Linked DNA regions of Homo sapiens: region 1 is linked to region 2. The links come from fine-mapping of genetic effects on gene expression. A gene starts in region 2. The other region holds a variant in brackets. All regions are shown on one strand. Distances are from middle to middle. Region 1 overlaps USP2 (ubiquitin specific peptidase 2). Region 2 holds the start of HINFP (histone H4 transcription factor).

Region 1 (15,091 bases), 250 kb after region 2:
CTTGGCTTTGTTGAGCAGGAGCCCCACGAAGGTGGAGAGCAGCAGGGACGGGGAGAGAGGGGAGCGCGGCCGCAGCTCCTTGGCGAGGGCGGGAAAGGGGGCGGCGGGGGGGTCCTCGGGCAGGGTCACGGTGTACGAGGTGCGCATGCTGGGGGGCGGGCGGCGGGCTTTGGCCCTCGCTTAACGTTGGCAGCGGGGGCGCGGGGGGAGTCCCCGCGCGGTGCCACAGTCCGGACGCCGAGGCCGGCGAGACCGCTACAGGACAGCGTCCGCGGCGCCCGAACGCGCGCTCCTCCGCCTCAACCTCCCCGGCGTGCGCCGCCAACAGCCCGGGTCCCGGCTCTCGCGCTCCGGCCGACTGGCGGCCCCGCCGGCGCCTCGGGCCCCGCGACGTCAGCGCTGGGGCGGGGCCAGGCCCTAAGCCCCGCCCCACCTCGCCTCTACCCCGCCCCCGGCGCCGGCACGCGGACCCGAACGAGGCGACAAGGTCGGTCCTCCCCCGCCGGGCCTTCCCCGCGCTCCCCGGCGCCCCCAGCCCGCTGACCCCCGGCCAGGCAGGCCCGCGGGGGAGGCAGGACCGGAGCCCTGAGGCCCTGGCCGGCCTCGGGGTTGAGGCTCAGCTCGGGATAAGTGATCTTTGGGGCCCGCAGAGGACGTCTCCCCAAGACCCAGTGGCAACCGGGTGAGCTTCCCCCAAGGCACCATTACACTTCCTAACTCTTGAGGGGGCTGCAAACCATTTTGAGAACGTGATGAAAGCTCTTCTCTCTTCAGGGCGAAATACGTATATGCACAAACTTTTGTCTAGAGTTCCGGGGGTACTCAGGCCTTCGTGAAGACCCAAACTCATGCAGTCTGTGGAGGTCAATGTGCCCAGGTTAAGAAGATGGACCTTCACGGCCTAGGGGCTGAGCTGCCCTCCTCAAAACAGTCCTGTTTGGCTTCTTTCAAGAGAGGCAGTGCTCATGTTTTATAAGGTCCAATAGGTCACCTTCTCATTTGGCTCCTGAAAAGAACCTTTTCTGGTCTCTTCTAACCAATTACCCAGCTCCGGCTCTCCCATTCTCAAATTTGACTTGTTTTGGGGAGCTGGGGAGAAAGCAATACAATAGTGGGGAAATAGGCGCTCAGCTGGCATGGGGCGAGTGTTCTACTCTGGCGTCAAGCACAGCCATGCTGGAAGATCAGGGGTCTTTAGATTTCGTTTCTGATGCCCCACCCCTCCACCTAACAGGGAAGCTCACGAATCTGCCTAGAGAAAGTATCTTGTTTGGAGCTTGCTGGCTATTTTTAGCCAGTATTTTTAGCATTTAAAAATACTCCAAGAGGCAGCAGTGTATGCTGTTACTCATCTGTGGGCTCCTTCTGTTCCTTCTGGTGTGCTCATCCCCACATGTACACGCACACATGACCACAGCTACATGGGGACTGTGTCCAGGACACACGTATGGCAGTACCCCAGGCCACCGACAAAGCAGCAATTTCATGCTAATGAGAGAGGGATGGGGACAGTTGCCCCCTCCCCTGTGTGCCAGCAGTGTGGTGGGAGGAGGGGGCAGGGGACAGGAACCACAGGCAGTCTGCTTGTGATCAGTGAGAGTGGGCATGTGAGGAGTGGTGATCTCTACAGTCACTGTCCTCACCCAGACTCTGACTGAATCTGGACCCCGGACAAACTGCAGCAGCCTTTCTCCAAGCCTCCTTTCCAGCCAAACGCTTTCAAGCCAGCCCTACACCATCTGAAGCAATGTTTGCATCTGATCTCATCACTCTTCTGTCCTGAAACAACTAGAGCACCTGCCCTTGCATCCAGCCCCGAAGCCTCAGGTAGCCTTTCTCTAAGGCTGTTTGTCCACAGGCCCACCACCCTCAGTCTTTGACCACTGCTGTCAACCAGCCTGTGCTTATCCTCTGCTGAAAAACCAAAACTGCCACTCATTAAGTACTTATTAGATCCCAGGCACTGGGTTAAGGGTTTTATATATATTATCCCAGTTAATTTCTATAACATCATGCTGTAGTAACTATTACCTCTATTTTATTTGTTTTGTTTTTTTTTTTTTTGAGACGGAGGCTTGCTCTGTCGCCCAGGCTGGAGTGCAGTGGCACGATCTCGGCTCACTGCAACCTCTGCCTCCCGGGTTCAAACAATTCTCCTGCCTCAGCTTCCTGAGTAGCTGGGATTACAGGTGCGCACCACCACGCCTGGCTAATTTTTGTATTTTTAGTAGAGACGGGGTTTCACCATGTTGGCCGAGCTGGTCATGAACTCCTGACCTCAAGTGATCCGCCCACCTCAGCCTCCCAAAGTGCTGGGATTACAGGCGTGAGCCACCACGCCCGGCCTATTACCTCTGTTTTATAGGTGAAGGACCTTAAGCCTAGAGAGGTCAAATGACTTTCCAGGACTGCAAAGTTAATAAATGACAATGTGGGGCTTTGTCTTACAGCAAAACCCATGCTTTTAACAGGAAATTCTGGGATGTACTTCCTGCTCTCTGCCAATTACCTACTTGTAAATTCTGCCTAAAATTTGCATCTTCCAAAAGCCTTCCCTAATTAACTCCACCCATCTCTAAACTCTCCATTACTGCATATCGTCAGTCTATGCGCATTCAGTTTGCATGGTGTTAATCTATCTTAATATGTTTATCTTTGCTTTATAAGTGTTTCAAAGAGTCCTATAAATGGTCTTGTGTGTGGCTTGTCTTGGTTTTGCCAGCACACTGAAACCTCCTCAAGGGCAGGGTTGTGGGTTCTCTTGGTGGGTTCTTAATAAATGGTGTTGATCTTGTCTCTAAAGAGGGCCAGACCAGGCTCTGCTAGGAATCCTGGGAGTCACACTAAGCCTCAGAGGGTGGGGTGTGAGTCTGCTTTTGCATGTTGAACACATGTGCTGCTGGGCTTGGGGGGACCTGCCCAAGAGGTGCTCACCCACTATAGCATTTGGCCTGTTTCCCCATGACTTAGACACAGTGATGTAAGCACTCCCACCCAGGACATCTGGGTGTTCTGCCAGCTTGCTCTCCCTCTTCCCTGGGATTTAGGAGGTTAGAGGGGTTGCCAGGAGCAGGGAGGGCCAGATGCAGAAAGCTTTAGCGTGGGAGCACTTTGAGAAGTCTGGGGTTGGGGGAAAGAATTCACACAGAGTCCAGTCTAGTCAAGCAGGTCCGACTGCTGCAGGACACGGCCACAAAGGACCTTGGCTCATCTCTCGGCCAGCCAGGTCTCTGTGAGACCCTTTCTCTTCACTGCCATTCTCGGAGTGGGATGGATACAAAGGATAGAGGCTTCTGGCATCTGAATCTGGCTCTGGCTCAGTGACTCTCTGTGCTTCAAATACACAAAGCTAAACTGAGCTGGGCTCATTCCTGCATCCTGACTGCCGTTCCTCAGAACCTGGGCTTGGCCTGCTTCCCTATAGGATAAGTAATTTTTGTCACCTTAAATCCTTCCTGGCATGAGATGGAGTGATATAAATGAAAGTTAGGGCTAGCTCTATGAGGGCGGGGACTGAGAGTATTCTGCTTCTCTCAGATCTGCGTGGGCAGCTTAGGCCAGGGTTTGGTGACACTGCTGGGGCTAAGGCAGATGTCTTAAAGCCTGGCTCCCAGCATGTGCCTGCGATTACCACCGCAAATGGACAGACCGGTGGCCTGATTGATTGATGGATGAAAAGGTAGGGGCTCTGAGTCCTTGTTAGGGGTTGGGCTTTTGCCCCACAGTGCACCTTGGGGAGAGAGGGTCAGCCCATCCTCCCCACTCTCTGTAGGAAGGTCTGCTTCCCTGCATGACGTGGACCCCAAGAGGCCAAAAGCTCTGTGCACCTTTGAGCCCAGGCAGTCTGGCCTGAACCAGCTGGATTCCAGAGGCCCACACACCTCCTTCTTTTGCATGTGTCTCCGTCTGGGGCGCTAGTTTTATGTACGTATTGAGGTGAGAGAGTACAAGGGGCCACGTGTGCAGCTTTGGGCTCTGAACATGATGTTCATTTCTGCAGCTGGTGGTCAGTGGAGCGGCTCCCCCAGGGGCAAGGAACATTTTGCCAGGCTTGGATTAACTTCTGCATTGCTGAGCCCCACCCCAGCACCACATTAACTCATGAAGACATCCTGGAGTGGGGGTGGAGGAGGAGGCGGGAGGATGGTGCTGGGCACCGATTGAGAAATTGAGCCTGGATAAGGCAGTACCAAGGCTAACGGCCAGGATACAGCCCACAGCCGGTCTGCAAGGGATGGAGACATCAGTGTCTTGCTGATTCTAGTCACAAACCGCAAACCCACTGCCCTTTCCTTCGCAGCAGCTAGTACAGCTCCTGGCCAAGGGGCCCCTCTGGCTTAAGGTCCTTTAGTGACCTTCTCATGCTGCCAACACAGATTCATGACCTCAGGAAGTTCAACCTCCTTAGGGTGGCTTAGTGATCCCGGGGTGGGAGTAGGTAAGGACAGACCCCAGGATCTCAGGCTGCCAAGCTAGACAAACAAGGCAGCAGGGATACAGGCCAGTGTGGCTGCGTGAACGGAGCGAGAACATGAGGGACGAGAGGCGAGTTGTACTTCTCACCTAGGAGCTCCAGGACAGCCCCTGCTATCCGCAATTTGTTCTCTTTGGAGTAACCTCCGCTCACTGCAGGGCAGCATTCAAGTCCAAAGTCCCACCCCAGGGAAAAATCACATGACCTCAGCTTATATAATCTCCCTGTCACTGAACAGCTGGAACCCAAGGCTTCGGAAGATGAGTCAGCAGCCCCAGTGGCAAATAGGACCCAGGTATTCAGTTTCCCAGACCTTTTGCTCCTAGAAACAGGTCCTAGAGCGGAGGGCAAGGGTGTGGAAGAGACTGGGTGGGTGAGAATAGGCTGGGCCAGACTCTGAGCCTCAGCCCTGGCTCTGCCTCCGAGTTGCAGGTGCCCAGCTTGCTGACTGTGCTCTGGAGGGCCCTGGGCCAACCCCTGGATCTTCTTGGGGAGAGGAGAGGGTGGCCTGGGCAGGGTGGGGCAAGGGCTGGGCAGAGGCCAGCGGGCAGAATGCCAGGGCTAGGGAGGAGCAGCTGGAGGGGTGGAGCTGAGGGGGATTAGGAAGGATTGTAGGGGTTAAAGCGCAGCCCTGGCAGGGCTCAATGGGAACAGCTCGTCCTTCCATAGACCCCGGGAACAGGAGAAGTGGGGCAGAGTAGGGAGATGACAGGGTTGGGACTGGGGCTCCTGGGTCTCTGCAGGGCTGAGCCACCTGAGCTGGCTTGGAGTCCCCACTTGGGTTAGTGAACACTTTTTTTCCACCATCACTGTTCCTCCTCTCTGCATTTTAAGCAGAAGGTGAAGTCTCAGGGGAGGCCCTCATTATACAAGTGCTGAGCTGCGCCCCCCTGGCCTGGCATTTTGTTGGTGCTTACACAAGCATGGGGAGGGGATAATTCTGAATTTATGTGGCGCCCCCTGCCACCCGCCCCTGCCCCCCGCCAGCTCTGTGCTCATGCTCAGCTGAGTCTGTGATATTCAAAGTTCGTGTTGCCTATTACTGTTAATGAGGGAAAGAAGTCTGGCTAGAACTGTTCTCCCTGGTCACAGCCTGCTGTTGACCTCCCTTAATGAATGCCAGCTGTAGCTCCAGTCAGCTATCCTGAGAATCCCCTGGGACACAGGATGTACTTTTTTTTACCTCTGTTTCTCCCACGGGGTTGGTGGGGAGGGGGCTTCCTACTCTAGTCAGCTGCCAAACGCCCCCTTTCTATGATCTCTTTTCCCCCCTTAAGTTTAAATGACCTCTTCTGCAGCATTTTATTGATTTCACATTCCTCCACCTTCATTATTTGCTTTGAGCCTCATGGCATGCTTGAGAGGTGGGCAGGGCGGGCGTGATTGTTCCCTTTTATAGTCTAGGAAATACAGCCCAGCTGATAGGTGTCCAAGGTTAGAGAGGCCAACTGTTCCTTCCACTGGTCACGAGCAGCCCGTCCCAGCCTCAGATGACCTCTCCCTTTCCGTCCACCTGTGACACTCAAGAACACCCAGGGCTGCCTCCCATTGTACCTATTTAAGAACTTCTTCTTGGCCAGGCGTGGTGGCTCACACCTGTAATCTCAGCGCTTTGGGAGGCCGAGGCGGGTGGATCACCTGAGGTCAGTTCAAGACCAGCCTGGCCAACATGGTGAAACCCCGTCTCTACTAAAAATACAAAATTAGCCTGGTGTGGTGGTACACGCCTGTAGTCCTAGCTACTTGGGAGGCTGACACAGGAGAATCACTTGAACCTGGGAGGTGGAGGTTGTAGTGAGCCGAGATCGCACCACTGCACTCCAACCTGAGTGAGACAGAGCGAGACTCCATCTCCAAAAAAACAAAACAAAACAAACTTATTTCCCTAAGTGAATTGTGAAGGCACTGAAGGCAGGGACTGTTGCTCGCACACATCTCTTGCCTGCCAAAGCACCAGAAGGGTACAACAACGAGGACTAACATTTACTAAGCAACATGCCAGGCACTTTCACATACATTATCTTTTCATTCCTCAAGTAATCTGTGAAGTGGGAACTATGATCACTCATCTTACAGAGGAGGACACAAGTTCAGAAGCTAAGGGACCTATCTGAGGTCACGCTGCTAGTAAGCTGAGCACCACAAATGAGTGCCTCAGAAGGCAAGATCCCCAGATGGAGATCTAGAAAGAAACTGGACCCAGTTTTAGAAAGAAGTGGTCCAGGCCGCACGAGCAGGGTTGTTCTCACCTCAGCAAGACGCACTCTGCTCCAGGAAATGACGATAAGGGGTGGAGAGATCAGGGTGAGGTTAAATAAAGGTCTTGTACTATTGACCCTGGAGAGGCCTCTGCTGGTTGGCAGTATCTTCTGGGGCATGAGCTCAGAATGAAACACTAGCTCAACTGCAGGGCATTCCCGGCTAAAGTGCCTTATGAGTTGCTTCTGGATGAGGGTGGCTGAGTTTGTCCCAGGGCAATCTGCCACTTCTTTGAGGTCCTCTCTCAAAATTCCCTTCACCTTGGCCCTGGAGCCGGGGGGAGGAGCCAGGGTTGTCCCTTCTGGAGAGTTGGAGGGCGGCAGACTCCCAGGAGGGTTGGGCCATGCCTGTGTGGGGAGGAGGCAGATTCCCAGTGGAATCTGATCCCCAGTAAAGGGGAATACTGCTGTCATGATTGGGGCTGAGGGTGGGTCTGTAGTTTAGTCTGCGCTGAGGTTTTCCATCTCAGCATGCCTAGAGATCACCCAAAGAGCTTGTGGAAAGAGCAGCTTCCCAGGCCCCATCCCGAGAGAGTTTGCTTCAGTGGGTTTGGATGAATCGTTAAGCCCTGCAGTGACTCTGACACAGGCAGTCTGCAGACCCCACTTTAAGGAGCACTGCTGACCATGAAACAACCCTTCTCTTCTGAGCAAGGGGAGGGAGCCCCGCAGAGGCTTCTAGGACCCGAGCCCCTCCGAGGAGAGCCATATTCTAATTGCCCTGGGGTTGAACAGCACCAGCCGAGTCCAAGTGAGTCCTGCTCCACTCCAAGCCCAGCACGCAGCACCCTGAGAGCTGATACTTCCCCACCATGCCAGCTCTGTTGTGACACATCTCTCTTCTCCACTCCTTTCTACAGTGGATCCAGCCCTGCCTTGTCAAGTTCTGAATGTTCTGGGAGGCACCAGCGTTTCTATCTCCTGTGCCACTTCACAGATGGCACAACAAAGCCAAGACTCCCTAAGTCATATTATCAAAGTTGCTCTCTCAAGACCTTTAGTTATGCAAGCTTCAAGGTCCTGCCCCTATTCCTGAACCCCTGCTGCATTTGTCTGGATCAGCCCTCCAAGCAGTATTTCTTGCTGTGGCATGCTGTTGTTTTCAAAATGTATTTGTCCTAGGAGTAGGGAGGGGTACATAAGGTAATGGAGGAGACACAGCATCCAGCCCTTCTGCCCATATGCTTGCCTGTCCATCTGTCCACCCGCCATCTACCCGTGTATCCACCCACCCACCACCCACACATCCATCCATCCATTCATCCCTGCAATCAGCAGGTCAGCCCCCATTGTGGGAGGCACGTGGCAGGGGATCTAGAGATAGGATTTCTTTTTCCTCCTCTGAGAGCTTGCCACCTAATGGGCACACTAATAACTACAGAAAAGGCAGATGTCGTCAGTGCCCCAAGAGAGGCGTGTGCGGGCATTAGTTGGCGAGCGAGCCCATGCCAGCCCTTGGTCAGTCTCCAGCAGAGCCTCTTCCCTCATTCCAGCTGAGGCAGGGCTGGAATAGAGGTATTGGATTGTCTCAAGCCCTAGATAAAAATTTCTCCCCTACTTTCTCCAAAGCCAGATGATAAGCATTGCTGTCTGATACCCTGGTCCTGAGTATGCCAGTGTCACTCAGAGGAGAGTCCCTCTTCCCCTGATGTCTTATGTCCAAATGTAAAGCCAGGCCTTGGGGCTAGGGAATAAAGCCTGCACAAGAGGGGAGATGCAACCACAGCAAGGAGGCCCTCCTGCCACAGGGTGCACTGGTGGTCTGGGCCCCCCCGCATCCAGCCCAGGTTGGGGCAAGGCCTGCAGGAGACACTGGCATGTCACATAGAAAAGGAGAAGGTGAGAAGAGTGGTTCATTGGGCGCAGCAGAGCATTCCTGAGAACACTACTGGACTATCCTCGAGTGCGCGGGCCCTGAGTGGGCTTTCTAGGCAGAGTGGGAAGGCCCCTCCCCTCGGCACGGAGCCCCAGGGGCACCAGATGTGCCAGGATGACTTCTCTTGTTTGTCTCCACCAGGAGCAGCCTGTCAGTCATCAGTCAGGTTGGGAGTCGAGCCCTCAGCCTGGCTGTTCTCCATCAGTGGCTGCCTCCCCAGCCTATCCCCGGTCCCCAAGGGTAAACTCACCATGCCGTCTCTTCCCGGGGAGCTGGAGCGGCTGGGCCCAGGGGCCTGACCCTTTCCCGTCTCCCACAGCGTGTAGCGGCCAATGGGTCGGTAGGTTGGGCTGATGATTTCAGGGACTCGTGAGGGAGGGGCCTGGGAGGGCACCTGAGATGCACTGCCCTTGCGACCATAGTTCTCCAGGTAGTCGACCAGGTA[T/C]TCAGGGCAGCTGGCTGTCTGGTAGAGCCCCTGCAGGGTGCAGAGCTCCTTGCGCGTCCGGGCCAGCATGGGGCTGCGGCCCAGGTTCCTGGGGTCTATCCGGTAGCTATCTGAGGTCCGGAGGCTGGAGAAATCCCGGGCCAGGTCTGATTGGCTGTCCAGCTTCTGGGTTAGGGTCACCCCCTGGTCATAGGCATTGATGGGCAGGTAGCTGAGGCAGTTGTTGGTCACTCCATAAGGGAATCCGCTGCCCCCGCTGAGGCCACTGCCTAAAGGCCGCTCAGTACCCCGGGTCTGGCTCTCTGCCCGCTTACCACCCCCAGTGATGTCGGGTCTCAGCAGGGGGCGGCCCCGGTCATAGTCCAGGAGGGAGGAGGGGCCATAGGTACGGGGACGGGTGAGGAAGCTGCTGGTGGGGACCGGCTTGAAACCAAGTTTCTCCTTCTCCAGTAAGGAGGCAGCCAGATTGGCCCCATAGGAGGACGGGGTGTAGGCACCATAGCCCGACTTGGCATAGTGGGCATCTGTGTAGCGGGCCGATTCTGTGTAGCGCTTCAGGGTGGAGGAGAGCTGGGACATCCTTCAGGGTGGCACTCAGTGGGGACTGGGAGCCTCATGGGCTGAAAGACAAGGAGTGTAGTTGTCAGAGGGCCCTGCCAGGTGTCGGGCTCCCACAGACCTGCTCCCCATCCTCAGCTGGGCCAGAACCTCAGAGCTCCCAGTCCATTTCCACAAGAGGCAGGCTGGCTGCTGAGAAGCACACATGCACGCAGGTGTGCACAGGAGCTTGCTTGCACCTGTGTGTTCACACCTCGGTGAGAGTGCGAGGGATGAGGTGGCTTTTATATGCCACACAGGAAGTCAGCGCATCCTGGCCATTCAAAGACTCAAACACGCAAGCAGGGGCTATCTGACCTCCACAGCCCACCAAGCCGTGCAGTCTTCCAGGTCAAATCCCATTGCCTCAGCATCTGCAGAAACTCTTGAGCTGGGGGAATGCCACTGACCCCTGGGTTGAGAATGCTGGATATTTCAGGAGTTAAGACCACATCTGTCCCTTCTGACTTATGTGATGAGCAGGTGTCTTTTTGGAATCCTAGACTGTCTGTGCTGGAATGACCTGAAGATCATTTGGTCAGATCCCCTGTGAGGCCAAGGAGGCTCAGGGGAGGAAGTAATGGGGTGTGGGTGGGCAGGGGAGGCCGTGAGTGAGCATGCAACAATGAGGGGCCAGAACGTGGTCTCCAGACCCTTTCCCCAGACACCAGCACCTGCTGCATGGTCCCACAGTGAGGGACACTCACTTCACTGAGCTAAGCTTCTGTTCTAAGTGGAGTTAGGGCCCTGTGGCCTCCTAAGAGTTCCTCTACCAACACAGGCTTCCTCTACAAACACAGATCTCAAATTGGTCCTGGCGATGCTTGTGCAAAGGGGGCCCCCTACAGTCCCAAATCTTGCACTGCAGGTGGCATTCCCAGTCCTTCCCTGCTCCAGTCCTGCAGCTGGGGAGGGTCTAGTGAAGGAACACAGACACTGCTGAATGTGGAGCTTTGAGAGCCCCAGAGGATCATGAATTTTAATCTATCTGTTATACAGATGGGAAAAGTGATGCTTATTTGCCCCCGGCCACACACCAGCAGAGCCAGGACTGGAATCCAGGTCTTTAAAATCCTGGCCAGTGTTCTTTCTACTTAACCTGGAGTTACCTCCCCCGCATCAGATTTAGGGTCAGTTGGGGACCCCCAGAGGCCTTCCATCACCGTAAACGTGCAGCCTGTATCCAATGGAGCTGGAGTGGCAGAGGAGCAAGTAGGGTCAGACGCCTTTCCCCGAGGGCATCAGGGGCTCTTGGGGGGCTTTCTAGGGGGATGGAGCAGAGCCATCCAGGACTCTCAGAGTTGTGGGACTTGCCCTGTGATGGACTAGCTGGGTGATTTTGCACTAGTCACGTAACCTCTCTGAGCCCCAACTTCCTCATCTGTAAATGAGTAAAACCATCATCCTCATAATTCCTACCTCACAGGGCTGTTGTGAGGAATAAATGAGATAACAACACGTGAAGGGCTCCACAATGACAGTGGCTACCATCTCCTCCCCCAGCTACTGCGAGGCAGCATGGCTCCGCCCTCTGAAGGTCTGTGATAATATCAGGGCTGGCTGTCTCCCAGCCTGGCCAGCCTCTGGCCTCAGCTTGGGATGCCAGGCCTCCCCCTGCAGCCCCCAGCGAGAGAAACAGGCAGTGGGCAGACATCTGGCCACTCAGCAGACACTGGCTTGGCAACCCAGCCCATTAGGGCAGAGAGGAGCTGGTGCCAAACCCCAAATGCGAGGGCTTGGCAGAAAGCTCTAGAATCCCAGTCCACACAAGGCTTTGGGGTAGGTACAGGGGTGAGAGATGAGCAGGTGGCTTCCATATAGGCCCGGAACAGCATTCCTTGACCCTGCCTGAGAACTCCAGCAGTTTTCAGTCCAGGCTGACATCAGAAAGGCCTGGTCCATCTTACTGTCTAGCCTTTTGCCACCTGGCCCAGGGGGCCCCTGGCCCTTCATGTACACTCCTTTGCCCACTGTGCCCAGCACAACTTTCACCCCTTTCTAGGAAAAGGTAACTGGGGGATGATGTCACACAGCGTTAGAGGGAAACCATAGCGGGAGAGACAGACAGAGGCACAGGGTCGGGGTGGGGGCCCAGTCCTGCCCTATTTTGCTTTGGAGAACTCCATCAATAATGCAAAGTCAAAGAGACTCCAGGTCTCAGGAGCTGGGCTCTGGGACACCAGGCAGCCAATCAGATACAATCCCCCCAACAAGGGTATGAGCTCATGGCTCCTCCCCACAGCTCTCCCTCTCCCTCCCCCACAGTAAGGCTCTCAGGGAATTGGTATTCTTCGGGCAGCGCCCCAAGCCCGTGACATCCCTTGACCCTGCTGATGACGCAGAAGTGCTGGGGCCAAACGAGGTCCAGAGGACAGGGACAGACAGCTCTGAAAGGCTTTGGAGCCGGAGGTGGGGCCACATCTCTGGCCCACAGATTCCCAGGAGGGCTCCCAAATCCCCACTCTCCCTCCCATCTGGCAGGTGATTGCCAGACCCCTCCGCCTCCTCCTAGCAGCCCTGGGAGTCATGCCATCACTAATACTCCATGGAAGCTGCCTCTCGGCTCTGACTTCTAGCTACAGTTCCCATGCCTGCGGAGAGGGTTCCTACTGGGGCCGGGGCCTTCCACATGTCTCTCCCCTCCCGCAACCCCCAGTTTCACTCTCAAAGGTCCTAGCACCTTCCAGGTGAAAGCACAGCCTGGGTTGGTGCCCCTTGGCATTACCTGCACAGCTGTCCCTGGAGGCCACAGAATGCACTATGGGCAGGAGAGCGGGCTGGGGCCCTGGCCGGAGTCTCGCTGCGCAAGACAGGGACAGGACGGGCACTCACGTGGCTGCGAGTCTCCCTGTTGCCACAGGAACAGCCTGAACTGAATGGCCCTTTCATGGGGCAGTGGGAGGCAAGCCAATTGGCTGGGATCCCCCATACCCCTCCCTGCCCAGTGCGGGGGGCCCCTGCTGCCCAGCTCCTTTCACTGTTTACCCAGAGCTGGCAAGTACAGGCATGCAGCTCCAGGCAGCGCCTCTCCAGGTGTCCGCCACCTTGGACAATGGGGGCAGTCCCCTGCCCAGCTCCTCCTCCTGGCCATCTTCACTGAGGTGTCCTGACCCTTCCTTCTCTGTCAGAGATTCCTGTTGCTTTGCTCAGTTTCCCTCTCCTGGGAGGTGCAGCAGAGTTCCTCTGCACAGAGGCACTGGGCTTCCTGTCAGGGCATCTGAGCCAAGCAGCTGTCACCCCAGCTGGCTGGTGCTGATCACCTCTGAACCAGGCCCCAGGCATGTTGAGTACTTCACATGCAGCTTCTGAGTCCATCTTCTCTGCAGTCTCACATCAGCTCTCATCGGCCCTTGCCATGTGACGCATTCTTCTAGATGTGCTTCATACACAGAGCACCCCAAAAAGTCTTAGTGCAGGTTTAAGCTGGGATTCTTTCAGACATAAATGTCTCCAACTTACACACCTCTTTGGACAGATTAAATTATTTAAATTAAAATTTAAAAACATTTTCACAATTAAAAAATAAATATACAAGAAATTTAAATATGGAAACTTTCAAATGAAGTTTTTAGCATTCATATTTCTGAAGTTATTAAAGCTTAAAACTGCACTAAGGCTTGGGACACAGTGCATTAACTCACTGAATCCTCCCTGCTCCTTTAAGCGGTAGGTGCTGTTATCACGTCCATTTGCAGATGAGGAAGTTGGCGATGCTGGGAGTGATGTGGATTTCCCAAAGTCACACTGGGAGCAGTGGCAGAGCTGGGCTGGACTCGTGCTCTGTCTGCTATATCTGGCCTGAAGCCCAGACCCCTGCTTCACTCTTCCCTGGCTCTCCATGGGACGGGTCAGGACTGGGACCTGTGGGTGGGGTTTGAGGGAAGGACCACCACAGGATCCAGGTGTCCGTCATCCAGTAACAGCATGCGGTGTACAGACTCTGGCAGGAGCAGCCCTCTGGATTTTCCACTGCAGGTGAATGAAAGTGAAGCCAGGTGCAACTCGAGCCCCAGAACAATACTGATAGGCCGAGAGATGGTCCAGGAAGCCTCCATTTCACCCACTGTGCCAAGCCCCTGCATGTCCCCTGGCACCAGCATCTACCCCAGCTCGGGGCCTTGGGTCCCTGGCCTGGTTATGAGCAAGTCCCTAGCCTCCTACCCTGGCTGCAGCTTGGCCCACTCCTCAAGGTACCCATGCTGGGTGAGTCAGGGGTTAAAATGAACCCTGTCCCCGTGGGGCAGCCAACCCCTTTGCTTCAGCCACTGTCATTTCCTGTTGCTCACATGAAGGGCTCCCTAACCTGCCCAGCCAGGGGAGGGACTTGCTCCCCAGGAATTCCAGGCGCTCCTGGCCCTGGGGGCAGGGGATGGGTGATGCCCCACATCCCAGTAACCTTCATGGCTTCTCTCTGCCCAGATCTGCTTGGCTTTCTGGGGTGAAAGCCTGCTTTGCTACTGGGGCCTGGATAGAGAGCCTCTAGCTGAGTTTCAGAAGCACGCCTAAACAGGGTTAAGTCTCTTCCCTCCTACTCAGGTGCCCGGAAAAGGTGAGTGGGGAGTCCCAGCCAGTCCCGCCAGGTGGTTGGGAGCCCCCACAGTGGTGACCTCAGAGCTTCCTAAAGCCACTTGCTAACAGCATCAGAATGTGCTGACCTTGAAGGACAAGGTGGGTGAGAGGGGGCCCTGTATCCTTCCATCTGCACTCTGACCCTGCCTCCCAGCTGCTTGGGTCACCTGCTGCACTATCTGGGCACAAGTGTCTGGTCCTGGAGGATGGGATGAGGGAATCCTGGCAGGTGTAGAGGACATGGGTAGAGTAGGGGATGGGGGGGCGGGGGCATATTTATGCTCAAACAGTCCTTGAACTCCGCCTACTCCTCTCAGGCCCCAGGGCCTGGGCTGGCCTCCTCCCCTCCAGCCTGTCACTAGGCTTTGTCTATCAGGGGCTAGCACCCGCTGATCCACCAGCCTAATCCTCTTGCCTCCCCTGGCAGGGGGTCATCCAAGGGAATTTGGGTCCATTTCTCTTTCTTGTGCTCCCAGTAGTTACCCAAGAGCTGGGGGAGGGGAGGAGGTAAGATAAAGAGACTGGAGATTAAGGCAAGAATCCTGACTGGTGGAGAAGAAGTGGATGGGCCCAGGGCAGTTTCTATAGGGTGCTCCTTGATTTGGGGTTGTGAGTGGGTGGGCATCTATACACTTCCAAGACAAGGCAAAGAAATGGGCCTCCAGGTAGTATTGGGATCCTTAAATTCTCTTTTCCAAGCACCTCTGCCCAGGTACTCTCCTGGTGCCCCCTCCCAAGGGGAGAGCCCCGGTCTCCTTCCTTCTCCTCTAGGGCGTCATCTTTCCTCTGTTCTCAGCCTCCGGAGGAGCCTTTGGTCTTGCCCCTGACACCCACCGGGCCCAATGGGGTGGCCTCTCACATGCTCTCCCAGA
Region 2 (15,091 bases):
AGCTCACAGAGAGCAGGGCCGGCCCGGGATGGGGGGCAGGTACTCCCCACCTTCCTGCCTCCCCTCCTGCTCCTCATCCCTCCCTCCCCCTTTATTACCGTTTTTTGTACTTGATGCCTTCTCTGTGAGCAGTGGCTCTGTGGGAAGGAGGGAGCCGGGAGCCTGGTGGGAAGCCTTCCCCAGAGAGATGGCTTTAGGGGCTTTATTTAAAGACTGTGATGATGGAGCCACGCAAGGCTGCACCTCTGTGTGTTGGGAGACGATGATGATGTCCATTGCTGTGTGATGGCTTGGAATTTAATTTATTAAAGTCAAATTGGAGTTTATAAACTGGACAACTGGTTATCCTTTGAAAGGCAGTAGGCAGCCAGGCTGTGACATGGATGGTGTGGGAGGATGAGACAGGGGCCCGGATAATGAGGTTGGGTAGATGACACACATTGTGGATCTGCTAAGAAGTTCCTGCAGGGAAGAAGGGGTGTGCAGAGAAAGGATGGAAGAGACAGGAGGCTCTGGAGTATGAAATTGTAGCAAAAAACTCAATCAACTAGTACAGGTTAGTCTTCATTCCCCTTTCTGGAACAGGCTGCTCCTTCTAGGATGTAATGGAGATCAAAGCTTGGACCCTGTAACTAGACTGCCTGCCTGGGTTTGAGTCCCAGCTCTTCTAATTACTTGTGTGACCTTGGGCAAGTTATGTAACCTCTAAGTGCCTCAGTTTTCTCATCTGTAAAATGGGAACTTCAATCATCATGGCTATCATTTGGTTGTGGATGAGAAGTAAATGAAGTGCTGAGTGTTAACTGTTGCCTCAGAAGAAACTGGGAGGGGGAAGTCTTAGAAGTGTTTCAACATAATAAAAGCTCTCTCATTCTGAAATGTGGGCAAATTTCAGGGATTGATAGATCCTAGCAAACTGTGTCCCTGGTTCCCGTGCTTGAGATCTTATACAGGACTTGAACCAGGTAAGCTGCTACAGGATATTGGGCAGAATGCAGGACCAGGAAGCAAGAAAACTGAGTCTGCCACAGACAAACCAAGTGATCTTGAGCAGGCAACTTCTCCTTTGGGGACCTCAGTTTCCTCATATCTAAAATAAGGGTGACCTGGATAAACATTCAGGTCACTTCCAGCCTTGACATTCTATGACTACCTATATCTCAGGGTGTTTAGGGCACATGCCTTTGGGTAGATAGCATGTGGAAATTGTTACTATTCCCCATGCTCCTGTCCACACTACTCACCAAATATGAGATATCCGGGAAGAATGGAGGGTATAGATTTTTTTTTTCAATTAGATAATTTAGTTTTATATATTTGGGGGGACAAGTGCAGGTTTCTTACATGCATATATTGCATGCATAGAGGTGAAGTCTGGGCTTTTTTTAGTGTGCGCATCGCCCAAATAGTGAACATCATACCCAATAGGTAGTTTTTCAACCCTCACCCTCCTCCCACCTTCTCACCTTTCATAGTCTCCGATGTCTTTTATTCCACTCTATATGTCCATGTATACCCATTATTTAGCTCCCACTTATAAATGAGAATATGCCATATTTGACTTTGTTTCTGAGTTATTTCACCGAGGATAATGGCCTCCAGTTCCACCCATGTTGCTGGAAAACACATGATTTCATTCTTTTTTATGGCTGAGTAGTATTCCACTGTGTGTGTGTGTGTTGGGCGATGATAATGATGTCCATTGCTGTGTGACAGCTTGGAATTTAATTTATTAAAGTCAAGTTGGAGTTTATAAACTGCATTTTCTTTATCACTCACTACATTAACTACGTTTTCTTTATCCAATCCTCCATTGATGGACACATCGATTTGGTTGATTTTTATGTAGTGAAATGTTCAATTCTAAGTCATGAAAATTCAAAGAGATTTTTCAAGCTGTTTCCCCAGTCTAAGAAATGTAACTCTTAGTGGTTCACAGAGGAACAGTTTTTCTACCAGTATGACACGACAACCAAACACAGTGAACTTGTGATTGCACAAGAAACTTTTGTTGATGGGAGAACAGGTATTCAGAGTTCTACAGGACCTGGGGAATGAGTAGATGGTAACTGGAATCTGTATTGAGCTTCCAGTACTGAGCTGCCCAGAGTTCCATGGAATCACATATTTTAGTGAAGAAGAGCCTGATCACGTTTCAAAAATAGGGAATTTTTAAATGAATGAAAAAAATACGAAACATATTTTCATCAACTTAATCCATTTCACACTTTCAGAAGGGATCCACAGCTTTTAATGAGTATGAATTATGCTTTCAGTTTTTGTGGCAGCTTTTAAAGAACAAATCTCAGGATATGTCTGAATTACCCAGCCAAAATTGTGGCTTGTTTTCAAGAGAAGCAGATTGAGATAGAAGTAAACTATGCTAGACAGAATGACACTGCTTTAAATTTTGGAAACATATATATGGATCCCAGAGCAATCCTGAAATTTTTGCTCTGTAACCTATGTTTGAGTTTACACAGCTCTGTGAATGAACTTTTTCTTCATAAAATTGCTAAATAAAGCTAAAAGCTATTTTCAGTGGTGTAAATCTGAATTAAAATGAGGATGGCATTTCATGAAGTACTACTATATGCATTTTTGAATGAATAAAGTTGGTAAGATATATTTTGTTACTTTTGAATTACATTTTTTAAAACGCTTTTTTTTTTTTTTTGAGACAGAGTCTCTCTCTGTTGCCCGGGCTGGAGTGCAGTGGAGTGATCTTGGCTCACTGCAACCTCTGCCTCTCAGGTTCAAGCGATTTTCCTGCCTCAGCCTCCTGAGTAGCTGGCACTACAGGCACCCACCACCACACCTGGCTAATTTTTGTATTTTTTGTAGAGATGGGGTTTCGCCATGTTGGCCAGGCTGGTTTCGAATTCCTGACCTCATGATCCGCCCGCCTCGGCCTCCCAAAGTGCTGGGATTACAGGCATGAGCCACCGCGCCCTGCAAAACCCTATTTTAAAATAGGGACCAAGTTATAACTCACTGTTGTTAAAACCAAAATTTATGCACAAGTATGACTTTACTATCTTAATGGCATTTTAAATTTTATTTTATATATATTGAACATTTAATGTGTTTTCTGATTGTACAAATTATATAGGTTTATTTTTAGATTAGAAGATACAGAAAACTACAATGCAATAAAATATCAGTCTTAACCAACTTTATTAAGGTATATTATTTAACAAGTATGTCTTGAACCCTTACTGAGTTTCAGCCACTGGGCTAAGTGAGTGATGGGTTTTTTGTTTTATTTTGTTTTTTGTTTTGTTTTGAGACAGAGTCTTGCTCTGTTGCCCAGGCTGGTGTGCAGTGGTGCCATCTCAGCTCACTGCAACCTGTGCCTCCTGGGTTCAAGCGATTCTCCTGCCTCAGCCTCCCGAGTAGCTGAGATTATAGGCGCCCGCCACGATGCCCAGCTAGTTTTTGTATTTTTAGTAGAGACGGGGTTTCCCCATGTTGGCCAGGCTGGTCTTGAGCTCCTGACCTCATGTGATCCACTCGCCTCGGCCTCCCAAAGTGCTGGGATCACAGGCGTGAGCCACGACACCCGGCCCACTGATGGAGTTATAAAGGTGAAGAACTAGTCTAGTGAAGAATGCAGACTGAGAGTAAACAGACAAATACAATGTGACTGAGCTGTATTGTTAAATACAAGAAAGGACTATCAGGAAGACTTTTTGGAAAAAGAAGCATCTACACTGAGACCATAAAAATTAGTAGGAGTCAGTCAAATAAATGTGGGAGGAGGAGAAAGGGATTATTCCAGGTAAAGAAAACAAGTTCAAGGCTTGAGAGGTAAAAGGTGGCTTGGTGTGGTGGAAAAGGTGAAAGAAATTTGCGACTGGAGAGCAAGAAATATGGTCGAGAAGGACTAAAAAAAAGTAGACAGGGAGAGCCCAGATGCTGAAGGGTCTAGAAAACCTCAGTATGGTTTTGGAGCTTTGCCCTGAAAGCAATAGAATGCCTTTGAATTGTCTGAAGCAGATGGTAACTTGATCAGGTCTGCTTTTTGCAAAGTGGAGAATGCTTTGGAAGGAAGCAAGTGTGCACGCAGCGGGACCCATTAGACTAATGTATAAATCCTGCCTGGAGGTCATCACTGGACAGGGGAGGTGGGGGAGGCGGTGAAGATAAACAAAAGGGGATAAATTTGAAATATCCTGTTTTAAAAGGAGGTAGAATCCACAGAACTTGGCAATGGATTGGATGTGAGAAGTGAGAGGAATCAGTGATGACTGCCAGCTTTCTGACCTGAACGAGTGGATGAAGGGAAGCCGAGTTTTGGGGGGAAAGAGAAACATATAATACCAACATTTAAAACATAATAAGACTAAGAGGCTGAAGGAAAGGGTAGAACCTTCAATCTGAGCCGAGCGGGGCCGACAGCGCTGGGCAGCATCCCACGCCTTTTTCTCCGCGAGGCCCACGCAACCAGCCAACTAAAGCGAAGAACCACGTGAGGGAGACCCCACTGCGCACCAGGCGCGAGCCCTGCGCATGCCCGTTGGGTCCCGGAGGCCGAGCCTGCGCAGTTAGGGGAACTCAGGCCCATAGGCTCCCCGCCTTTGCGTTGCCCTGAGCAGCGAGGCGCGGTCACGTGCTACCTTTTGCACGTATCCTGTCGCCCCTCTGTCCGCCCGGGACGCCTAGCCCCACCCACTGTTCCCGCCCCTTCCGTGTTTTGGTGCGCACGGGTTCCGCCAGACACAGCTACCATTGGCTGTCAGTCGGATCCGAGAACGACGATTGGCTTTCCTTGACCGTCCCTCAAGCGCCTCTCCGGAGATGGTCTGAGGTGGGAGAAGAGCTGAAGAGACCTGGAGCCGACAGACGGTAAGCTGGGGTATGTGCTCTGCAGGGGCTGCAGGAGGCCAAGCTCTTCCCGAGCCACCTCGGCGAGTATTCTTGCCGCTTGGCCACGCTGGTCTGCCCTGGTCCGGTCCCCTCACCCCGACTGGAACCTCCCTGCTTTCTAGTCTAGGGGCTTCGCTGCGGCTGAGACTCGGTCGCCGCCACGCCTTAGCGTGAAGGATTCCGGGAAGCCTGCGGGACTGCGAGTGGAGAGGTTTTGCCCAACGGGACGGTCTCCTTCCTTCTGTCCAAATTCTACCTGTCCTTCGAGGCGTGGTGCGGGCCCCACTGCTTAGGGGAGACTTCCTTTTCGCCTGACCGCGGAGGTGTCTCTCTGTCCTGGTCTCCCTCATCGGGTACTTTGTTTCGGTCGTTGTCTTCACGTATCAGTCTTATCTTTTTGGCCAAATTATGAGTTCTTAGGCGTTTAGGACCCTTTTTTTCTTGAATACCACAGTTCATTCATTGTCTTGCGTTACAGTATATGCCCTCTTAAGTGTTAAGAGGGTAGAGTGAAGATCATGCCCCTATCTCCTCAGAGTAGAAACAAGAGACACAGAAAGAGAAATTAAAGAAGACAGGAGGACAGTCAGAGAGCGTCAGGGAGTTTTGCCTAGGTTTCAGATCATTCTGTATCGCCAGCTAGCTTGCCTCCTTGGACTTACCCACCAGTCTAACAGCAGGTGTATGTTTAGAATATTTGTGCTCGGCACAGTGTAGGGACACGGGCAGGTGTGATATGGTTTCTGCTCAGAAGCTTCTTATAGTCCAATTGGGTAAACGAGACTAGAACACATAAAACGACCATGGCAACATGAAAATAGGGTTGAAGTTTTATGGTGTCAGCTGTGCCAGCCATAGAACTAAGGAGCAAGAGTAGATTCAGGGATGGGGTAGTTTAGGAAGGCTTCCCGGAATGTGATTATCTCCTGATATTTATTGAGTACCTGGGGTGTGCAAAGCTCTGTGCTGAATCTGAGAATGAGAAGTGAATAAGTGATGGCCACTGTCCTGAGAAACTCCTAGTCTAGGGGAAACAAGTTTCATTGCATTGATAGCAAAGATGTGTGTGGATGCCGTGGGCAAGAGATGGGATATGCCAGCTGTACCTGGATGAATTGGGAAGGGGGTCATCAAAGAGAAGACTTTGGGGTTTGAAAGGCGAATAGAAGTTGCATAGGTAGGCCTGTCGCGGTGGCTCACACCTGTAATCCCAGCACTTTGTGAGGCCGAGGCGGGCGGATCACTTGAGGTCAGGAGTTTGGGACCAGCCTGACCAACATGGCAAGACCTCGTCTCTACTAATACTACAAAAATTAGCTGGGCGTGGTGGTGCGTGCTTATAGTCCCAGCTATAATACTTCGGAGGCTAAGTCACGAGAATCGCTTGAACCTGGGAGGCGGAGGTTGCAGTGAGCCCAGATCACAGCACTGCACTCCAGCCTGGGCGACAGAGCAAGACTCCATCTCCAAAAAAAAAAAAAAAAAAAAAAAGAACTTGCGTAGGCAGAGAGTTTTAGGAGAATGTAGAGTATTCAGAGACAAAGATGATTGAATCAGAGGAAGAGGGAATGAAGTATGGGTGAGGAAGCCAGAGAACAGCATCATGTGGGAGAAAGAGCATGATCTTTGGATTGGAATGAGGGTGCTCTTACATCAGATGAAGTGTAGAGAGGACTCACCACAGGGCTGACACACTGTAGCTTCTCAATAGATGTTCGTTTCCCTACCTAGAACTGGAGAAGTAAAATTGAGACCACTTTGAGAAGAGCCTTGCATTTCATACTGTAATAGTCAGAGGAGGTGTGGGATTTTATGACTTTTGAAGCTTTTTTCTACTTTTCTTACCACAACATTATAAAAGCAGTCAATATTCAATATTTCTTTCTTCTTTTTTTTTTTTTTGACAGGGTCTGGGTCTGCCGCCCAGGATGGAGTACAATGGTGTGATCTTGGCTCTTTGCAACCTCTGCCTCCTGGGCTCAAGCCTTCCTCCCACCTGAACCTCCCAAGTAGCGGGACTGCAGGTGCATGCTACCACATCGGCTGTTTTTTTTTTTTTTTTTTTTTTTTTGAGATTGAATCTTGCTCTGTCACTAGGCTGGAGTGCAATGGTGCGATCTCGGCTCACTGCAACCTCTGTCTCCCGGGTTCAAGTGATTCCCCTGCCTCAGCCTCCATAGTAGCTGGGACTACAGGCGTGTGCCACCATACCTAGCTAATTTTTTGTATTTGGCCAGGATGGTCTCAATCTCCTGACCTTGTGATCCCCTCGCCTCGGCCTCCCAAAGTGCTGGGATTACAGGCATAAGCCACTGCGCCCGGCTGATTTTTGTATTTTTAGTAGAGACGGAATTTTGCCATGTTGCCCAGGCTGGTCACAAACTCCTGAGCTCAAGCCATTTGCTCACCTCAGCCTCCCAAAGTGCTAAGATCGTGAGCCACTGCACTCGGCCCAGCAGTCAATATTTGTAATAGGGATTCACTAGTAGTCTGTGAGCAGCTCAGCAACCCTATATGCACCCCAGAGTGTTAAGGATGACTGGATTCTTCTCTGAGGAGGAGAAAAGGCTATGTAGGTACAGTAGGTATAGTGGGTTCAGAAAAGCCTGTATTGGGGGCATGAAGGATCTTCTGTTTTTTCGTATTTTCTGTTTTTTTTCCTTTTAGTATTCAGTAAAGGCCTTTTTTCAGAGTTCCCACCTGTCTCAGGTAGGCCAGAGAGAGCAACATGGTGGGGTCAGCAAGAATCCGTGAGAATTCCTGAGGAGAAGGTGACACTCAGGAGACAGAGCCAAGGCCGGCTAGTGTCCTCTCTCTAGCAGAAATTTTGCTTGCAACGTCACCCTCTGTTCTGTGTTTCGTTTATTCTTTAATTGTTACTCAAAGTATGCTTCTGGAACTGCTTGCATCACAACTGGGGTGCTGAGTTAAAAGGGCAGATTTCTAGGCTTAACTCCTGCCTTCCTGAATCCGAACTTCTCACGCAGGCGCTGGATAACTACATTCGTGTGCAGATCTAAAATTGAGAGCTACCTGGGCATGGTGGCTCACATCTATAATCCCAGCACTCTGGGAGGCTGAGGCGGGTGGATCACCTGAGGACAGGAGTTCGAGACCAGCCTGGCCATCATGGTGAAACTCTGTCTCTAGCAAAAATACAAAAATTAGCCAGGCGTGGTGACACACCTGTAATCCCAGCTACTCAGGAGGCTGAGGCAGGAGAATCTCTTGAACCCGGCAGGTGGAGGTTGCAGTGAGCTGAGATTGCGCCACTGCATTCCAGCCTGGGTAACAGCGAGACTCTGTCTCAAAAAATAAAAATAAAATGAAATAAAATTGAGAACCTTTAGTTTTTTGTTTGTGTGTGTGTGTGTGTTTTTTTTTTTTTTTTTTTTTGAGACAGAGTCTTACTCTGTTGCCCAGGCTGGAGTACAGTGGCACGATCTCGGCTCATTGCAGCTTCTGCCTTCCAAGTTCAAGCGATTCTCCTGCCTCAGCCTCCCGAGTAGCTGGGATTACAGGCTTGTGCCACCACGCCTGGCTAATTTTTGTATTTTTAGTAGAGACAGGGTTTCACCATGTTGGCCAGGCTGGTCTTGAACTCCTGACTTCAGATGATCCACCTGTCTTGGCCTCCCAGAGTGCTGGGATTAGAGGTGTGCACCAGTGCGCACAGCCGAGAACCTTCAGTTTCATGTTTATCTTTCTTCAATAAATATTTATTACAGACTGGGTGCAGTGGCTCATGCCTGTAACTCCAACACTTTGGGAGTCTGAGGCAGATGGGTTGCTTGAGTCCAAGAATTCGAGACCAGCCTGGGCAACATGGCAAAACCCTGTCACTACAAAAACAAAACAAAACAAAAATTAGACAGATGTGGTGGCGCATGCCTGTGGTCCCAGTTACTTGGGAGGCTGAGGTAGGAGGATCTCCTGAGCCTGGGGAGGTCGAAGCTTCAGTGAGCTGTGATTGTGCCACTGTACTCCAGCCTGGGTGACAGGGTGAGACTCTGTCTCAAGAAAAAAAATATTTATTACATGCCTAAGCATGCCTAGCAGTGTATAGACACCCAAGGTGCAGTATAAACTACACAGATACGGCTTTTTATGTTCAAATGGAATCTACATTTTAACAGAAGGTATTAGCAGAGTGGTGGAGTAAACCGTTGGATAGGTTAGGTAAAGGCAGATTGTATGGCACTGTGAAAGTCTGGCAGGGGACTTATGATTCAATAAGAAATAAGGAGCTTCTAGGCTCATCTGTAGGCTCTATGGAGTAGAACCGTATATGGACTAGAGTCAGCCCAACATGACCCTACCATTACCACTAGTGTGTGGCCGTGAGCAAGTCAGTTGACCTCTGGAACTTCAGGTGTTTATCTATAAATGAGGTTAAAAATAGCACCTACCAGCTGGGCGTGGTGGCTCACACCTATGATCCCAGCACTTTGGGAAGCCAAGGTGGGTGGATCACCTGAGGGCAGGAGTTTGAGACCAGCCTGACCAACATGGGGAAGAAACCCTGTCTCTACGAAAAATATAAAAATTAGCCAGGCGTGGTGGCGGGCGCCTGTAATCCCAGCTACTCAAGAGGCTGAGGCAGGAGAATCGCTTGAACCCGGGAGGCGGAGGTTGCAGTGAGCCAAAATCGAGCCATTGCACTCCAGCCTGGGAGATGAGCGAAACTCAATCTCAAAAAAAAAAAAAAAAAAAGCACCTACGGCAAAGGGTGGTGTTGGTAATTAAATGACATAATGCAAATAAAATGCTTACTGTGGTGCTTGACATATAGTAAGTGTGAAATTAAAAACAAAAAGATTTATTATCTTCATTTTGCAGATGAGAGTATTCAGAAGTTAAGTTCTTGACAAAGGTCATACAGCTAGTAGATGGTAGACAGTGGAGCCAGGATTTGAACCCTGATCCTTCTCAAAAGCCATCTGTTTGAACCTGAGCATTGTTCTGCCTCACAGAGGAATAATTCCTTCTTGGTGGGTTGCTCTGAAGCTTCATGAGAAAATGTCTGTTAAAGCGTTTAGCTCAGTGCCTGGCACACACTCAATAGTGTTAGTTTTTGTTTTCCCTTTCCACAAACACCAGACATCTTCCAGGGATTTAAGGAATTACTCCATCCTTACTGTAAAAGGGCAGGGTTTCTCATGGGTCACTGGAACAACACGTGCTGATTCTAGGCAGGCTGCCTGCCCAGCTTTTTGCCCTCAGCAGCACCTGGGTGGAATTCTTGCAGCTGTGGATTTCTTCCTCTTCCTCTAGGGTGAAGGCCATGCCGCCTCCTGGGAAAGTTCCCCGAAAGGAGAATCTGTGGCTACAGTGTGAGTGGGGGTCCTGCTCCTTTGTGTGCTCAACCATGGAAAAGTTCTTTGAGCATGTCACTCAGCACCTGCAGCAGCACCTGCATGGCTCTGGGGAGGAGGAGGAAGAGGAAGAGGAGGATGACCCACTTGGTAAGAGAGCAGGACACAGGAAGGGGAGGAGCTCAAGGAAAGGTGGAAAATCTGACTTTCTTTTCCTTAGAGGGAGAAGGCGGCCTAAGAGAATGGTGGTTTATTTTCCTAATTGTGTTTTTGTTGTATATAAAAACATTGTAAACTCATTTATAGAAAACTCAGTCAACAAGGATATAAGGAATAAATCTGCCATCCTGCCATCAAGAAGTAATTGCTGACAGTACTTTAGTGAACATTGTTTTTGACATCTCTCTGCCTGTGTTTACATATATTTAAATACAGATGAATGTGCTTTTTTTTAATCATTCTGTACAAGTTGTTGGCAACCTGTGTTTTGTTGTTGTGTTTTTTTTTTTTTTTTTTTTACTCTTCTAGTATTCCCAATTTTTTTTTTCTTTTACTGCAACCAGTCAGAAATACATCTTACTTTTTAGAGACAGGGCTTCATCTTGTCACCCAGGTTGGAGTCCAGTGTCATGATCATAGCTCACTGCAGCCTTCAACACTCAAGGGATCCTCCTGCCTCAACCTCCCGAGTAGTTAGGACTGCAGGCATGTACCACCACCACACGCCAATTTTTAAAAAAATTTTTTTTAGAGACAGGATCTTGCTTATGTTGCCCACTGATCTCAAACTCCTGGCCTCGAGCAATCCTCCTACCTTAGCCTCCTAAGTAGCTGGGACTATTGGCTTGTGCCACCAAGTCCAACCCCACTCCCACCTTCCAATTTTTTTTTTTTTTTTTGAGACGGAGTCTTGCTCTGTTGCCAGGTTGGAGTGCAATGGTTCGATCTCGGCTCACTGCAGCCTTTGCCTCCCAGGTTCAAGCAATTCTCCTGCCTCAGCCTCTTGTAGCTGGGACTACAGGCGCGCGCCACCACGCCCAACTAATTTTTGTACTTTTAGTAGAGATGGGGTTTCACCATGTTGGCCAGGATGGTCTCAATCTCTTGATCTCATGATCCGCCCACCTCGGCCTCCCAAAGTGCTGGGATTACAGGCGTGAGCCACCGCACCTGGCCCCATCTCTCACTTTTTAACCTTTGTCTGACTTATGTTTTAGGTATGCCTTTTATCAATAGCAAATAACTGGGATTTTAATAAAATCCAATCTGAAAACAATAACAATAGTGAACTGTATTCTATAGTACCTACTGTGTGTTAAGTATTGCTGGGTACTTTATTTTTTTTTTGAGATGGAGTCTCATTCTTGTTGCCCAGGCTGTAGTGCAGTGGTGCAATCTCGGCTCACTGCAACCTCTGCCTCCTCGGTTCAAGCGATTCTTCTGCCTCAGCCTCCCGAGTAGCTGGGATTACAGGTGCGTGCCACTACGCCCGTCTAATTTTTTTTTGTATTTTTAGTAGAGACAGGCTTTCACCATGTTAGCCAGGATGCCCCTGTTGGCCAGCCTGGTCTTGAACTCCTGACCTCAGGTGATCCGCCCGCCTCAGCCTCCCAAAGTGCTGGGATTATAGACGTGAGCCACCATGCCCGGCCAGTACTTTTTTAAACCTACATTAAAGCACTATTTCCCAAAGAGCCTATGAGATAGGCACTATTATTATTATTATTTATTATTATTATTTTTAGATGGAGTCTTGCTCTGTCGCCAGGCTGGAGTGTGGTGGTGCGATCTCAGCTCACTGCAACCTCCACCTCCCAGGTTCAAGCAATTCTACTGCCTCAGCCTCCCGAGTAGCTGGGATTACAGGCACATGCCACTATGCCCAGCTAATTTTTTTTTGTATTTTTAGTAGAGACGGGGTTTCACTGTGTTAGCCAGGATGGGATAGGCACTATTATTATACCCATTTTACAAATAAGGAAACGGAGGCACAGAGGAATAAAATAACTTGCCCAAAGTCACGGTACTAATAAGTGTGGCAGGATTTAAAAGAAAAAGGAAAAAAAAAACTTTTTTTCAGAGTAAGATGGAGTCTTACTCTGTTGCTCAGGCTAGAGTGCAATGGCATGATCTCGGCTAATTGCAACCTCCGCCTCCCGGGTTCAAGTGATTCTCCTGCTTCAGCCTCCCAAGTAGCTGAGATTACAGGTGCCCGCCACCACGCCCGGGTAATTTTTGTATTTTTAGTAGAGACAGGATTTCACCATATTGGCCAGGCTGGTCCCAAACTCCTGACCTTGTGATCTGCCTGCCTCGGCCTCCCAAAGTGTTGGGATTACAGGCGTGAGCCACTGCGCCCGACCAAAGCCACTTTTTTTTTAGAGACAGAGTCTTGCTATGTTACCAGGTTGATCTTAAACTCTTGGCCTCAAGTGATCCTCCTGCCTCAGCATGCTGAGCAGCTGGGACTATAAGCATAAGCCACTGCATCTGGCAGGAATACATTTTTCTTTTCTTTTTTTTTTTTTTTGTGGGAGTGCAGTGGCTCGATCTCCGCTCACTGCAAGGTCCGCCTCCCGGGTTCATGCCACTCTCCTGCCTCAGCCTCCCAAATAGCTGGGACTACAGGCGCCCACCACCAAGCCCAGCTAATTTTTTTTTGTATTTTTTAGTAGAGACGGGGTTTGACTGTGTTAGCCAGGATGGTCTCGATCTCCTGACCTCGTGATCTGTCTGCCTCGGCCTCCCAAAGTGCTGGGATTACAGGCGTGAGCCACCGCACCCGGCCCAAAATGTGGTTGATAGTTCACTGAACTGATTTCCTAACCCACTAGTGGGTCACAACACAGTCTGAAAAACTCTATTCTACAGGAAATATGGAGGCAGCTCTCCTTCTCCCACCCCAAATTCTGTTTTAAGTCTGATGACTATGAACCATAATTGATAGTTTCAAAATTCAAGTCATATTTATACAAAGGCAAAATTGGGGAATGATTATATTTTCTAAAGTATCTGTGTTTCAAAACAAGTTAACTTATATAAAGCGCTGAAAATACAGTGCTTAGGGATGCTAGAGAGATAGGAAATGGATTGGAAGAGTTGATGGGGCCTTCTTGGAGAAGGCAGATCTTGAGCAAAACATGAGGGGAAGGAGGAGTGGTGGTTTTACAAGGAGAAGTGGGAGGTGTCAGATCGAGAGGCAGCATCTTCATCAGGAACTGCAGAAACTCAAGTCAGAGGACTTGCGTGCCGGCCATTTCTGCTGTCTGTTTCTGGCATAGGCCTTGCACACACTCTCACCTCTGCCTAGACCACACTTCTTCACCTATTTACAGATACTCATCCATCGTACTTCAGAGTTCAACATGGGGACGTTTCTCAGAACACCATGTCAAATGACCTCTGTTTAATGCTTTTATAGCACCATGTATATCCCCGCTTTGTAACACTCATCACTGGTTGCAGTTTTATATTTATAGATCTGATTATTTGATGAATATGCTTTCTCCCTGACTGAAAGCTATGTGAGGGCAAGGAGTGGGACACTTTTTACTTGTTATAGTCCCTCTAACTGGCACACAATTTATGGTCATTAAATACTGGTATTTGCTAAATGAACCCTGGTAATTTGGTTAGAGTCCAGCCTCCTCACGAGTCCAGCCTCCTCACTCTCTGTTTAGTGCTGCAGGTGGAAGGTGACCTGAGCCTTGGAAAGTGTCAGACTCTTCCTTTTAAACCCCTTTCTACAGAGGAAGAATTCTCCTGCTTGTGGCAGGAATGTGGCTTTTGTTCTCTGGACAGTTCTGCTGACCTCATCCGCCATGTCTACTTCCACTGCTACCACACCAAGCTGAAACAGTGGGGGCTGCAGGCCTTGCAAAGCCAGGCTGACCTTGGCCCCTGCATCCTGGACTTCCAGAGCCGGAACGTCATCCCTGATATCCCTGACCACTTCCTGTGTCTGTGGGAGCACTGTGAGGTCAGCAGGCAGTGCCAGTAATTGGGGTGGAAGGAAGCTGGGGGTCTTAACTCTGATGCCTTGTCCCTTTCAGGGATGCCTTATATTTCCAAGATTCCTGCTAGTATCTCTCTTCCATTTCTTTTGCTCTTTTAAAATTTGTTTATTTTTTACACACAGGCTCTTGATCTGAAGCCCAGGCTAGAGTGCAGTGGTACAATCATAGCTCACTGTAACCTTGAACTCCTGGGCTCAAGCAATCCTCCCACCTCAGCCTCCCAAGTAGCTAGGACTACAGGCATGTACCACCATGCCCTGCTAACTTCTAAATTTTTTGTAGAGACAAGGTCTGGGTGTGTTGCCCAGGCCGGTCTCGAACTCTTGGCCTCAAGTGATTCTCCTGCCTCAGCCTCTCAAAGTGCTGGGATTACAGGGTTTAGCAACCGCACCCGGCCACTCCTCCATTTCTGTGCAGTGCCTTTCCTCAAAATTTCCCATCCCCATCAAGTTAATTTGGGAGAGAGCCAAGAATTCTTCGGGCACATAGGGGTGAGTCCCTCTACCCACCCTCAGTCCTCACCCCAAGTTGCCCCTGGCACAGAATTCCTTCGACAATCCTGAGTGGTTTTATCGGCATGTGGAAGCACACAGTCTGTGCTGTGAATACGAAGCAGTCGGCAAGGACAACCCGGTGGTGCTGTGTGGCTGGAAAGGTAGGGCTGCTTCTTAACTTGTGGCTTCTGGAGGAAACGCTGGGGTTCCTGAAGAGCTGGGACAGAAAGGGATAGGGGTCCTACAGGGGCAAGGTTGACTGCCGGCTGGAGAGACTCAGGGGTACCAGATCCTAGGCAAAACTGGGGTTTTGTGGCAGGAGACTGATAGGGCTTCCTTCCCAGGCTGTACCTGCACCTTCAAGGACCGCAGTAAACTTCGAGAGCACCTCCGCAGC

Evidence for each region.
Region 1: its variant is fine-mapped to the expression of HINFP in coronary artery (GTEx, PIP 0.96).

Annotation. Positions count from the first base shown.
Region 1 is chr11:119,363,849-119,378,939 of GRCh38, forward strand. USP2 (ubiquitin specific peptidase 2) reads right to left here. Exons shown (of 13, transcript NM_004205.5): 2 at 8,859-9,673. The coding sequence starts at 9,632. Among named protein-coding and RNA genes, the nearest start is that of USP2, 10 kb to the right of the region's middle. RefSeq lists a silencer at 328-517, enhancers at 4,577-4,721, 4,593-5,523, 9,112-9,612, 12,479-13,057, 13,374-13,962 and a cis regulatory region at 4,643-4,656. The variant T/C (reference allele first, on the strand shown) is at 9,054.
Region 2 is chr11:119,116,792-119,131,882 of GRCh38, forward strand. HINFP (histone H4 transcription factor) reads left to right here and starts at 4,789. Exons shown (of 10, transcript NM_198971.3): 1 at 4,789-4,848; 2 at 10,144-10,334; 3 at 13,934-14,163; 4 at 14,744-14,855; 5 at 15,039-15,091. The coding sequence starts at 10,154. C2CD2L (C2CD2 like) reads left to right here. Exons shown (of 14, transcript NM_001290474.2): 14 at 1-1,753. RefSeq lists a silencer at 4,523-4,802.